3 separate regions of the Homo sapiens genome follow, and all the other regions are linked to region 2. Evidence: fine-mapped expression QTL. A gene starts in region 2. Each other region holds a variant in brackets. All regions are shown on one strand. Distances are from middle to middle.

Region 1 (4,197 bases), 99 kb before region 2:
CCACTGTGCCCGGCCTGGCCTCACTTCCTTCGAGCGCATTCTCTTACCTCCTCTACTCCAGGCCTCCTCGCCTCCTTGCTGTTTTGTCATTCACACCAGGCAGGCTCCCTCCTCATGGTTGTTGCACTTGCTGTTCCCTCTACCCAGAATGCTTTTCCCCAGATACCTACATGGCTCACTCCCTCACCTCCTTCAGAGATATACTCAAATACCACCTTCTCATCAAGGACCTCCCTGACCAAATCATCTAGAATTGAAGCTGGGCGCAGCGGCGCTTGCCTGGAGTCTCAACTACTCAGGGGGCTAAGGCAGACGGATCACTTGAGCCCAGGCATTCAAGACCAGCCTGGGAACATATCAAGACCCTGTCTCTGCAAAAAATAACAAAAATTAGCCAGGTGTGTTAGTGTGCACCTGTAGTCCCAGCTACTTGGGAGGCTGAGGCAAGAGGATCACTTGAGCCCAGGAGTTTCAGGCTGCAGTGAGCCATGATCATGCCACTGCACTCCAGGCTGGGCAACATAGCAAGACCCTGTCTTTTAAAAAAAAAAAAAGAAGAAAAAGGCCGGGCGCAGTGGCTCATTCCAGCACTTCGGGAGGCCGAGGCGGGCGGATCACCTGAGGTCGGGAATTCGAGACCAGCCTGACCAACATGGAGAAACCCCATCTCTACTAAAAATAAAAAATCAGCCGGGCATGGTGGCATATGCCTATAATCCCAGCTACTAGGGAGGCTGAGGCAGGAGAATCGCTTGAACCCTGGAGGCGGAGGTTGCAGTGAGCTGAGATCGTGCCATTGCACTCCAGCCTGGGCAACAAGAGCAAAACTCTGTCTCAAAAAAAAAAAAAAAGAAGAAAAAAGAAAAAAAAGAAGAAGAAAAAAAAACTTGAACTGTACCAGTAAAACTGGAATTCCTCACTCAAACCCAGTAAGTAGTTCCTACCCCGTCTTTCCTTGTAGCATATCATCACCATTATATATGTTATTTATTTGTGTGTTTGGCATCTTTACTAGACCACAGACTGCATGGGGGCAAGGGCTTGTCCATCTTTTTTTCTGCCATATTCCCAACATCTAGAATAGCGGGCACATAGTAGATGCTCAATAAATACTTTTTTATTTGTATATATTTTTGGACAGGGTCTCACTCTGTTGCCCAGGCTGGAGTAGAGTGGCACAATCATGGCTCACTGAAGGCTCAAACTCCTGGGCTCAAGCAGTCCTCCCACCTCAGCCTCCTAAGTAGCTGGGAGTACAGGTGTGCACCACGATGCTCAGCTAATTTTTAGAAAAATATTTTTCTTTGGAGACAGGGTCTCCGTGTGTTGCCCAGGTTGATCTTGAACTTCTGGCCTCAAGCGATCCTCCTGCCTCGGCCTCCCAAAGTGCTGGGATTACTGGTGTGAGCCACCACCACACTCAGCCTAATAAATACTTTTTTTTTTTTGAGACGGAATCTCGCTCTTTCGCCCAGGCTGGAGTGCAGTGGTGCGATCTCTGCTCACTGCAAGCTCTGCCTCGCAGGTTCACGCCATTCTCCTGCCTCCGCCTCCCAAGTATCTGGGACTACAGGCGCCCACCACCATGCCCGGCTAATTTTTTTTTTTTTTTTTTTTTTGTATTTTTGGTAGAGACAGGGTTTCACCATGTTAGCCAGGATGGTCTCGATCTCCTGACCTCGTGATCCGCCCACCTCAGCCTCCCAAAGTGCTGGGATTACAGGCATAAGCCACCATGCCCGGCCAATACTTTTTAAATGAAGGAATGAAGCCTGGGTATGGTAGCTCATGCCTGCAATCCCAGAAATTTGGGAGGCCGAGGTGGGTGGATCACCTGAGGTTAGGAATTCGAGACCAGCCTGGCCAAGGTGGAGAAACTCCATCTCTACTAAAAATACAAAAAATTAGCCAGGTGTGGTGGCACATGCCTGTAATCTCAGCTATCTGGGAGGCTGAGGCAGGAGAATTGCTTGAACCCGGGAGGC[G/A]GAAGTTGCAGTGAGCCAAGATTGTGCCATTTTACTCCAGCCTGGATGACAAGAGTGAAACTCGGTCTCTAAATAAATAAAGGAATGATAATCTGGCCCTCGATGGGCTTCCCTTTTCTGCACAATAGTTTAGCATCCAAGGCCTCCCCCTTCCTTGGGCTCATCCCCCACCTATGTCCACCCAAGTGCCACAGCAGGCTCCTGAGGTGCTCCCGGTAGAGTGCTCCATTTTAGAGAGCTCCCCACCCCCACCCCTGCCCCAGCATCCTTCCTTTGTCCACTCCCTGCTGCAATCCCACTGCAACACCCTGTTCGAATGTCACCACCTCTGGGAAGCCACCCTGGTTCCCTCACCTACCAAAACCATGTCTGTCTCCCCCACTGCAGTGGGAACATCTTGAGTGCAGAACAGTGGCCCCAGAGCATGGTTTCCCATTTAATGTTTGATGAATGAATGAATGATTAAATGAGGAAAAGACTTAGCAGAAAAACAGAGTTTAAAGAGAAGGGCAAGCCCGGGTGCAGTGCCTCACACCTGTAATCCCAGCACTTTGGGAGGCCAAGGCGGGTAGATCATTTGAGGTCAGGAGTTCAAGACCAGCCTGGCCAACATGGTGACGCCCCATCTCTACTACAAATACAAAAATTAGCTGGGCGTGGTGGCGGGTGCCTGTAATCCCAGCTGCTCAAGAAGCTGAGGCAGGAAAATCACTTGAACATGGGAGGTGGAGGTTGTAGTGAGCCTGGATTGCACCACTGCACTGCAGCCTGGGTGACAGAAAGAGACTCAGCCTTAAAAAAACAAACAAACAAAAAAAAGAAGTGAAAGGCACACTTTTTTTTTTTTTTTAAGAGATGGAGTCCAGGCTGGTCTTAAACTCCTGGCCTCAAGCAATCCTCCCTCCTGGGCCTCCCAAAGTGCTGGATTACAGGCATGAGCCACTGTGCCTGGCCACATTTATTTCTTTATTCATTTTTCATGCTACTATTTAATATGCGTCTCAATGAGTGATGCTTGGTGTGACACCAGGGCTCTCAGAGGGCAGGAGCTGAGCCTCCCTTTCCTGCCCTCTCCCTAAGGGGCCAGACACTGGGCTCTGGGGGCATACCTGTGACCCACCCCACTGACTCACCCTGCAGGCTAGACCAGGAGTCAGGCAGACTCCCCTGTCACTTGTCATCTCTGGGCAAGTTCCTCTAGCACTTACCTCCTTACTTTTCCTCTGTGAAGTGGGGCGCCATCAATGCCCATTCTGCAGGGCACCCAAAGTTGAAGCCGGGACAACTGGAACAGGGTGTGGCTGTTCCCTCTGCCAGGCCACATCGGACCGTCTTGGGCCAGATTTTCCAGGGAAGAAGGGAAAGCTGGAACAGTGTCCCTAGCTTGCCTGGCAGCCAGCTAACCTGTGCCCATAGTCTGGGAGAGGTGCCAGGCCCAGACACACTGGGCAGCAGGGGGCTGGATTGGCTCCAGAGCTCCAATGCTTTGGCAGTCCTGGGGAAGGGAAGGGATGTGCTTGGCTTCAGGTCAAGAGGGTGTGGGCCACAGAAGTGACAGCTGGGGGTGGTGGAGGGCACAGCGGGCTTATGGGGGTGTGTGCGAGACCACTGTTGCAACAAGATGCTGGCAGGGACCTTCAAAAGAACATCTGCTGTTGACTGGCCTCCCCACTCCCACTCCTCCACAGGTTTTCCCATGAGTCCTAGAGGAAGCCAGGCCCCAGGCTTCTAGATAGAAAATAGAACCTACATTGGCCAAGTGTAATCCCAGTGCTTTGGAAGCCCAAGCCAGGAGGATCGCTTGAGGCTAGGACTTTGAGACCAGCCTGGGCAACATGAGGAGACCCCGTCTTTACAAAAACGAAAAAAGAGAAAATAGAACCTCAGGCCTAGAGCCAGAGTTCAGGATTGGGGATGCAGGGAAAGGAGGAGAGGGGGGCCATAACTCAAATCTCTTTCCCAAAGATAGAGTAGTTCCTGGCTGGGTGCAGTGGCTCACACCTGTAATCCCAGCACTTTGGGAGGCTGAGGCAGGCAGATCACTTGAGGTCAGGAGTTCGAAACCAGCCTGGACAACATGGTGAAACCCCTTCTCTACTAAAAATACAAAAAAATTAGCCAGGCGTGGTTGTGGGTGCCTGTAATCTCAAGCTACTTGGGAGGCTGAGGCAGGAGAATTGCTTGAACTCGGGAGGTGGAGGTTGCAGTGAGC
Region 2 (4,197 bases):
AGCGAGACCCTGTCTCTAAAAATATATAAATAGGCTGGGCACGGTGGCGCATGCCTGGAATCCCAGCACTTTGAGAGGCTGAGGTGGGCAAATCGCTTTAAGGTCAGGAGTTTGAGACCAGCCTGGCCAGCATGGAGAAACCTCGTCTCTACTAAAAATACAAAAATTAGCTGGGCATGGTGGCGGGCACTTGTAATCCCGGCTACTCAGGAGGCTAAGGCAGGAGAATCGCTTGAACCAGGGAGGCAGAGGTTGCAGTGAGCCGAGATCGTGCCATTGCACTCCAGCCTGGGTGACAGAGTGAGCCTCCGTCTCAAAACAATAAATAAATAGAAGTATATAGATAAATAAAAATACAAAGAAGCAGGAACAAAAGCTGGACCTCAGTGTCAGTGAGAGAAGGGGCTCAGAGCTCCTGGGTAGATGCCTGCCTAGGGGATGTCCACCTTCCAGTGAGCCACCCATCCCTACCAGTAACAGTCCCTCGAGGCTCCCCTTGGGCCTCTCTGTGCAGGTGAAGTAATGATCACAATTTTTTTAATATATATTTTTTCTTAAGTATTTTATTTTGTTTTTGAAACAGGATTTCACTGTTGCCCAGGGTGGAGTGCAGTAGGGCGCGATCTCGGCTCACTGCAACCTCCACCTCTTGGGCTCATGTGATTCTTCCACCTCAGCCTCCCGAGTAGCTGGGATTATAAGCCAAGCACGCATCGTCACATCCGGTAATTTTTGTATTTTTAGTAGAGAAGGGGTTTCTCCATGTTAGCCAGGCTGGTTTCGAACTCCTGGCCTCAAGTGACCCACCCACCATGGCCTCCCAAAGTGCTAGGATTGAAGGCGAGAGCCACCGCGCCCGGCCACCGTGTTGGCCACCATGTTAACTAGAGGTGTTAGCAACCTCCTGTGGGCCAGGCCCTTCAGGGGCATTACCTTGGGCTTACCACATCAGGCCCCTGAGAGTTGGGGGCTTCTACCTATGTGGAGGACCCAGAAGAGCTAATATGGGGGGCGGGGGTTGGAGGTGAAGGGCAGGAGTTAGGTGAGGGGAGATGGTGATCTCTGGCCTCACAGGAGGGTGCCCCTGAAAGAACAAACCCCAGGTCCTGAGGCGCTTTCAGGCTCAGGTGTGATAGGGGACCCTTTTGTTGTGGAGACAGGGTCTCACTCTGTCATCCAGGCTGGAGTGCAGTGGCGCGATCTCCGCTCACTGCAGCCTCAACCTCTTGGTCTCAAGCGATTCTCCCACTTCAGCCTTCGGAGTAGCTAGGACTACATGCACACGCCACCATGCCTGGATAATTTTTGTATGTTTGGTAGAGACAGGGTTTTGCCATATTGTCGAACTCCTGGGCTCAAGGAATCCTCCCACCTCAGCCTCCCCAGTAGCTGGTATTACAGGCTTTCTCCACTATGTCCGGCTAATTTTTGCATTTTTTTGGTAGAGATGGGGGTCTTGCCATATTGCTCAGGCTGGTCTCGAACTCCTGACCTCAAGCCATCCTCCCGCCTTGGCCTCCTAAAGTGCTAGGATTACAGGCAAGAGCCCCTGGCGTCCGGCCTGACCTTTCTTAATATCCCTTTGGAGCAAAGTAGGGGCGGCTCTATCAGGACTCCAAGGAAAGACGGGAAGGGAGATGGGGCCAACCCGCCAGAGCTCCAGAGCACCGGGTTCTCACCTGGCGTAAGGATTATGCTAATACAAGCCCCGCCCCGTCCCAGGCCCCGCCCACCCGATCGGCCTATGGTGTGGGGGCGGGGCTATGTTAATGAGGCCCGGCTGGCCAAGAGCTGTTCCCCGCGCTGCGCGGAGCAGGGACCAGGCGGTTGCGGCGGCGACAGCCATGGCCGGCGCGCTGGCAGGTCTGGCCGCGGGCTTGCAGGTCCCGCGGGTCGCGCCCAGCCCAGACTCGGACTCGGACACAGACTCGGAGGACCCGAGTCTCCGGCGCAGCGCGGGCGGCTTGCTCCGCTCGCAGGTCATCCACAGCGGTCACTTCATGGTGTCGTCGCCGCACAGCGACTCGCTGCCCCGGCGGCGCGACCAGGAGGGGTCCGTGGGGCCCTCCGACTTCGGGCCGCGCAGTATCGACCCCACACTCACACGCCTCTTCGAGTGCTTGAGCCTGGCCTACAGGTGAGGGCGGTTCCGGGCCCTGACGGCCTTGGCTTCCAGGTGGGGATGGGGGGGGGGTCCGGGGCAGGACTGCGCGCTGGGGCCCTCAACACCCCACCCGAGCCCGGTCCTGCGGCTCCCGGAGGCTCCGATCACGCCCTGGACACCCCCTTTCTCCCAGCCCCGAGGTCCTCCTACAGCGGCCCAGCCCGCTGGCCCCTGACGGACCCACGCATTTCTGATTCCCATTCCTCCCCCATTCCCTCTTCCCCGAAGCGCAGACCGCCTGCGCCCCACCTCTACCTGGACCTCTGGTCCCCTCTCTCTGGTCCCAGCCCCTCCGTCCCTACAAAAATGCCAGGCGCCCCTGGTCCCTAGGCCACCCGCGCCCATCCCCACTCTCCACTCTGGAGCCACTCCACCCGACCCCCTGCAGGCCTCGGCCTTCTCCCCAGCAGCCCCGGCCCAAGCCCGCCCTATTCCTGGACCCTGAGATACTCCCAGCGCCCCTGATTGTCCCAGTTCATAACCAAAGTGGACTGGAACTGGCCCACTCTCACGTCCACCTCCCCGCAATTGCTGAGACACCTCTTCTTGATCTGCTACATTAAGGGTGGCGGGAGGAGGATGTCCCAGAAATGTCCAAGAGGCGCAGCTCGCAGAGGTTACGCCGGTGCCCGGGAGGCCTGGGTTCGCCTACCCACGTCGCCACACTAGGCTGAGCGCCCGTCGCTGCCTGGGACCCCCGCTTAGTGCCACCGAGAGCGCACAGGCCGCGCCCCGCTGCCGCTCCACGCCCCGCGTCCCAGAGGAGGGCGCGAACCCGAGGCCTGGCCCAGTGCCCTGGAGCAAAGTTCCCCGGAGTTGAGGGGCCAGTATAAATTATCAACCGAAAACCCGTAGGGGAGAAAGGGGGATCGGCCGGCCTTGATCTTTTCTCTGTGCAAATATTCCTCTTCCTCCGCGGCGCCTCCTCCCCTTCTGAGAACCGCTGGCTACAGATCGGCACCTGCCGCCCTGCGGGGGAGCAGGAGCTGGGGTGGGGACTGTGAGGGGAGTGTTGCCTGCCCCCAACCGCAGCCGCCCAGCTGCGACCCCATTGGCTGGAGGCGGAGTAACCTTGGCCCACAAGCTCTGGCCCCTGGCCCAGGTCATGTTGCAACCCGATCGGCCAGGGCGTCGGACCCGTGTGGAAAGTTCAAATTCCCGTCCCTTCTCCCTCCCTCCCCAAATGTCACGCGACTGCCTGGGACAGGGCATCTAAGGTCCTGGTACACCGGATGCCGGCACTCCTCCTCCTAAGGGTCTCCCATTTCCCACCCAACCCCAACTTTGGCTGCTCATTATATACTACACATCACTCTATTTGGGAGGGGGCCTCACTTCCAACCCTGACGATGGGTGACCAAAGAGGAGAGGTTCTGGGGAGCTGGCAAGGTAAGGGACAGAGCGCACCCCCAAAATTGCCCCCCCACCCAGAGGCTGACTCAAGGCTGATGTAACCCCAGTCAGAGATAGCTGGGGTAGAGAGGACTGTGTTTTCTTCCCAAATACCCAAATATTAATAGTAAATCTCTGGCTGGGCACAGTGGCTCCTGCCTGTAAGCCCAGCACTTTAGGAGGCCAAGGTTCTCATCCAAGGATTGCTTGAGCCCAGGAGTTGGAGACCAGCCTGGGCAACATACTGAGAACCTGTCTCTACCAAAAAAAAAAAAATTTTTTTTTTTTTTTGAGACAGAGTTTTGCTCTTGTTGCCCAGGCTGGAGTGCAGTGGTGCCATCTCAGCTCACTGCAACCTCTGCCTTCCGGGTTCAAGAGAATCTCCTGCCTCAGCCTCCTGAGTAGCTGGGATTACAGGCGCCCACCACCTCCAGCTAATTTTTTGTATTTTTAGTAGAGACGAGATTTCACCATGTTGGCCAGGCTGGTCTCAAACTCCTGACCTCAGGTGATCCACCTGCCTTGGCCTCCCCAAGTGCTGGGATTACAGGCATGAGCCAACATGCCTGGCCAAAAAAAATTTTCTTTAATCAGCCAGGTGTGATGGCACATTCCTAGTACCAGCTACTGGGGAGTCTGAG
Region 3 (4,197 bases), 120 kb after region 2:
GATTTCGGCCCACTGTAACCTCTATCTCCTGGGTTCAAGTGATTCTCGTGCCTCAGCCTCCTGAGTAGCTGGGTCTACAGGCGCTCACCACCACGCCTGGCTAATTTTTGTGTTTTTAGTAGAGATGGGGTTTCACCATGTTAGCCAGGCTGGTCTCGAACTCCTGACCTCAAGCGACCTGCTCATTTCGGCCTCCCAAAGTGCTGGGATTACAGGCGTGAACCACTGCACCCAACCGGGTATGATAATTAAATTTTTTTTTTTTTTTGCTAGTTTAATAAGTGAAAAGTGTTAAATCATTGCTGTCCTTTTGCAACAGCTCTGGTGTTCAAGTCACGTTTCCAACATGTTAACGCTTCCTGGTTTCCTTTTTTTTAAGAGGCACAGTTTCGCTCTGTTGCCCAGGGTGGAGTGCAGTGGTATGCACATAGCTCCTGGGATCAAGCCAGCCTCTTGCCTCAGCCTCTTACGTAGCTGGAACTATAGGTGCATGCCACCTCACCCAGCTAATTATTTTAGTTTTTTATAGAGGCAGGTTCTCACTCTGTTGGCCAGGCTGGTCTCAAACTCCTGGGCTCAAGCAATCCTCCCACCTGTGCCTTTCAAAGTGCTGGGACCCACTGTGTCCAGCAAACTGCATGTTTTTTTTTAATCTTTGTATTCCCCAGTGCTTTACGTATATTTGCTAAAGCAGTGTTGTTTTGCTGTGAACCTAAAACTCGTAAAATGTTAAGTGTTTTTTTTTGTTTGTTTGTTTTTTGAGACTGAGTCTCTCTCTGTTGCCCAGGCTGGAGTGCAATGGTGTGATCTTGGCTCACTGCAACCTTCGCTTCCCGTGTTCAAGTGATTCTCCTGCCTCAGCCTCCCGAGTAGCTGGGATTACAGGCATGTGCCACCACGCCCGGCTAATTCTTGTATTTTGAGTAGAGACAGGGTTTCGCCATGTTGGCCAGGCTGGCCTTGAACTCCTGACCTCAGGTGATCTGCCCGCCTTGGCCTCCCAAAGTGCTAGGATTACAGGTGTGAGCCACCACGCCCAGCCAAAAGTTAAGTCTTTTTTTTTTTTTTTGAGATGGAATCTCGCTCTGTCGCCCAGGCTGGAGTGCAGTGGTGCGATCTCGGCTCACTGTAAGCTCCGCTTCCTGGGTTCATGCCATTCTCCTGCCTCAGCCTCCCAAGTAGCTGGGACGATAGGCACCAGCCACCATGGCCGGCTAATTTTTTATATTTTTAGTAGAGATGGGGTTTCATCGTGTTAGCCAGGATGGTCTTGATCTCCTGACCTCGTGATCCACCCGCCTCGGCCTCCCAAAGTGCTGGGAATACAGGCGTGAGCCACCGCGCCCTGCCCAAAAGTTAAGTCTTAAAAGAGGTTAGGTGCAGTGGTGCATGCCTGTGGTCCCAGCTACCTGAGAGGTAGGAGGATTGTTCGAGCCCAGGAGGTGGAGGCTAGTGAGCTATGATTGTGCCACTGCACTCCAGCCTTGGTGACAGAGCGATAAATGTTTGAAATGTTTGGAAAAGAAAGAAAGAAATGTTTGAATTGACTTGAATTAAATCTCTGGGTAGGTGTTTCTGTGTTTTCTTGATAACTAATTACATTTATTTAGTTTGAAGGAGGAGTTTCCTGCCTGGTATGAGAAGCTTGTTCTGGAAATGGTTCACCATAACACAGCCTCCTTAGAGAAGTTAGTAGATACTGCTTGGTTGGAGATCATGACCAAATATGCTGTGGGAGAAGAGTGTGACTTCGAGGTGAGTGCCTGTTCGTTTCTGATTTGACTTACCATCAGAATTAGAGCTGTCATCGTAGGTTACAGAACACATTTCTATGTGTGTAAAACTGTGTTATATTTAGTATTATATTTAATGTTAAGTATTAATACTTTACGTTAATACTTGTGTGTTTTCTTGGTTTTGTTTTTTTGAGATGGAGTCTCACTCTGTCGCCAAGGCTGGAGTGCAGTGCGCAATCTTGGCTCACTGCAACCTCATTCTCCCGTGTTCAAGTGATTCTCCCACCTCAGCCTTCTGAGTAGCTGGGACTACAGGTGTGCACCACCACGCCCGGCTAGTTTTTTGTATTTTTGGTAGAGACAGGGTTTCACCATTTTGGCCAGGCTGGTCTCAAACTCCTGACTTCAGATGATCCACCCACCTTGGCCTCCCATCAATTAT[T/C]ATAAGGACTAAATTTTATTTTTATTTATTTGTTTAGAGACAGGGTTTTGTTCTGTCACAGAGTCTAGAGTGCAGTGGTGCAGTCATAGCTCACTGTATGTAGCCTTGGACTCCCTGGCTTAAGCCGTCCGCCCACCTCAGCCTTCTGAGTAGCTGGGACTGCAGGCATGTGCCATCACTCTTGGCCTTGAACCAAATTTTAGAACCACATTCATCACTGAGAATGTTTTAGTATTGTAATAATTGCAACACTTTGTTGTACTGGTCTGTCCTTTGTCTTTTTCATCCTTTTTTGATAATTCTGTTATTTTGTCTTTTTGGTTTTGATTTTTCTTTTCTTTTTTTATTTTTCGGAGACAGGGTCTTAGTCTGTCATCCATGCTGGAATAGTGCAGTTTCGCGATCTTGGCTCATTGCAACCTCTACCTCCTGGGCTCAAGCGATCCTCTCATGTCACCCTCCATGTAGCTGGGACCACAGGTGTGCGCCACCATGCCTGACTAATTTTTTGTATGTTTTGTAGAGATGGGATTTCACCATGTTGCCCCAGCTGGTCTCTAACTCCTAAACTATTCTCTTGGCCTTCCAAAGTGCTGGGATTACAGGCATGAACCACTGTGCCCAACCCATGCAATGACCATGCTAATCTTCTCCATATTATTCCAGTTTCATTATATGTGCTGACAAAGTGAGCACATAATTGTTACTATGTTGAAAAGACTTGCAGGCCGGGCGTGGTAGCTCACACCTGTAATCCCAGCACTCTGGGAGGCTGAGGCAGGTGGATCACGAGTTCAGGAGATCGAGACCATCCTGGCTAACACGGTGAAACCCCATCTCTACTAAAAATATAAAAAATTAGCCGGCCGTGGTGGCGGGCGCCTGTAGTCCCAGCTACTCGGGAGGCTGAGGCAGGAGAATGGCGTGAATCTGGGAGGCGGAGGTTGCAGTGAGCCGAGATCGTGCCACTGCACTCCAGCCTGGGGGACAGAGCAAGACTCCATCTCAAAAAAAAAAAAAAAGACTTTAAGACTTTTTTTTTTTTTTTCTTTGAGGTGGAGTCTCGCTCTTGTCGCCTAGGCTGGAGTGCAATGGCGTGATCTCGGCTCACTGCAACCTCCGCCTCCCTGGTTCAAGTGATTCTCCTGCCTCAGCCTCCCGAGTAGCTGGGACTACAGGCGCCTGCCACCATGCCCTGCTAATTTTTTATTTTTGGTAGAGACGGGTTCTCTCCATGTTGGTCAGGCTGGTCTTGAACTCTCGACCTCGGGTGATATGCCTACTTCAGCCTCCCAGAGTTGGGATTACAGGCGTGAGTCACTGCGCCCGGCCTCAGACATGTTTAATCCAAGTCCTCGCTGTAATGAGAGTTGGACTTTTTCTACTTAAATTTTTTTTTTTTTTTAAGATGGAGTCTCGCTCTGTTGCCTAGGCTGGAGTGCAGTGGCATGATCTCAGCTCACTGCAAGATTCGCCTCCTGGGTTCACGCCATTCTCCTGCCTCAGCCTCCCGAGTAGCTGGGACTACAGGTGCCCACCACCACCCCCGGCTAATTTTTTTGTATTTTTAATAGAGACGGGGTTTCACTGTGTTAGCCAGGATGGTCTCAATCTCCAGACCTTGTGATCCACCTGTCTCGGCCTCCCAGAGTGCTGGGATTACAGGCATGAGCCAGTGCGCCCGGCCTTATTTGTTTTTTAATTATCCAGTCAAAATAGCTAAAGGATAACTATTACAAAAGTGATACCGAACACTAAAGCAATCCCTGTATAATCTTGTAACAGCTGAAAGTAAGATTCAGGAGAAAAAACTAAACAGTTGTTAAATATCTATCTGTATGTACTTGACACTGGGCTAATTGCTTTACATAATGTCTTGCAGAATTTGCACGGAAATCTTGAAGTGGTAGGTAGCCTTGTACATTTAAATGACATGTTGAGGTTGATACATACTAGTTATGAGTGCTTTCAGCCGTTATGTAGCGAAATTGTAATAATAGTCCGTAGTTCTCAAACTTT

Direction of the effects. Alleles are on the strand shown, and positions count from the first base shown. SD is a standard deviation of normalised expression in the study named. Not every link is listed here.
As copies of C replace T in region 3, the expression in atrial appendage of the gene that starts at base 1,815 in region 2 goes up (moderate effect, 0.57 SD a copy in GTEx).

The links. PIP is the estimated chance that this variant, and not a neighbour inherited with it, causes the effect. A credible set is the group of variants that fine-mapping cannot tell apart.
Region 1: its variant is the best candidate, but not a certain one, in a credible set for the expression of MLXIPL in transverse colon (GTEx, PIP 0.64).
Region 3: its variant is the best candidate, but not a certain one, in a credible set for the expression of MLXIPL in atrial appendage (GTEx, PIP 0.78).

Annotation. Positions count from the first base shown.
Region 1 is chr7:73,720,931-73,725,127 of GRCh38, reverse strand. No RefSeq gene overlaps it. Among named protein-coding and RNA genes, the nearest start is that of STX1A, 3.4 kb to the right of the region's middle. The variant G/A (reference allele first, on the strand shown) is at 1,986.
Region 2 is chr7:73,622,140-73,626,336 of GRCh38, reverse strand. It overlaps MLXIPL (MLX interacting protein like), which reads left to right and starts at 1,815. Exons shown (of 17, transcript NM_032951.3): 1 at 1,815-2,137. The coding sequence starts at 1,845.
Region 3 is chr7:73,505,885-73,510,081 of GRCh38, reverse strand. It overlaps BAZ1B (bromodomain adjacent to zinc finger domain 1B), which reads left to right. Exons shown (of 20, transcript NM_032408.4): 3 at 1,611-1,755. It also overlaps the pseudogene RNU6-1198P. Among named protein-coding and RNA genes, the nearest start is that of BAZ1B, 14 kb to the left of the region's middle. The variant T/C (reference allele first, on the strand shown) is at 2,179.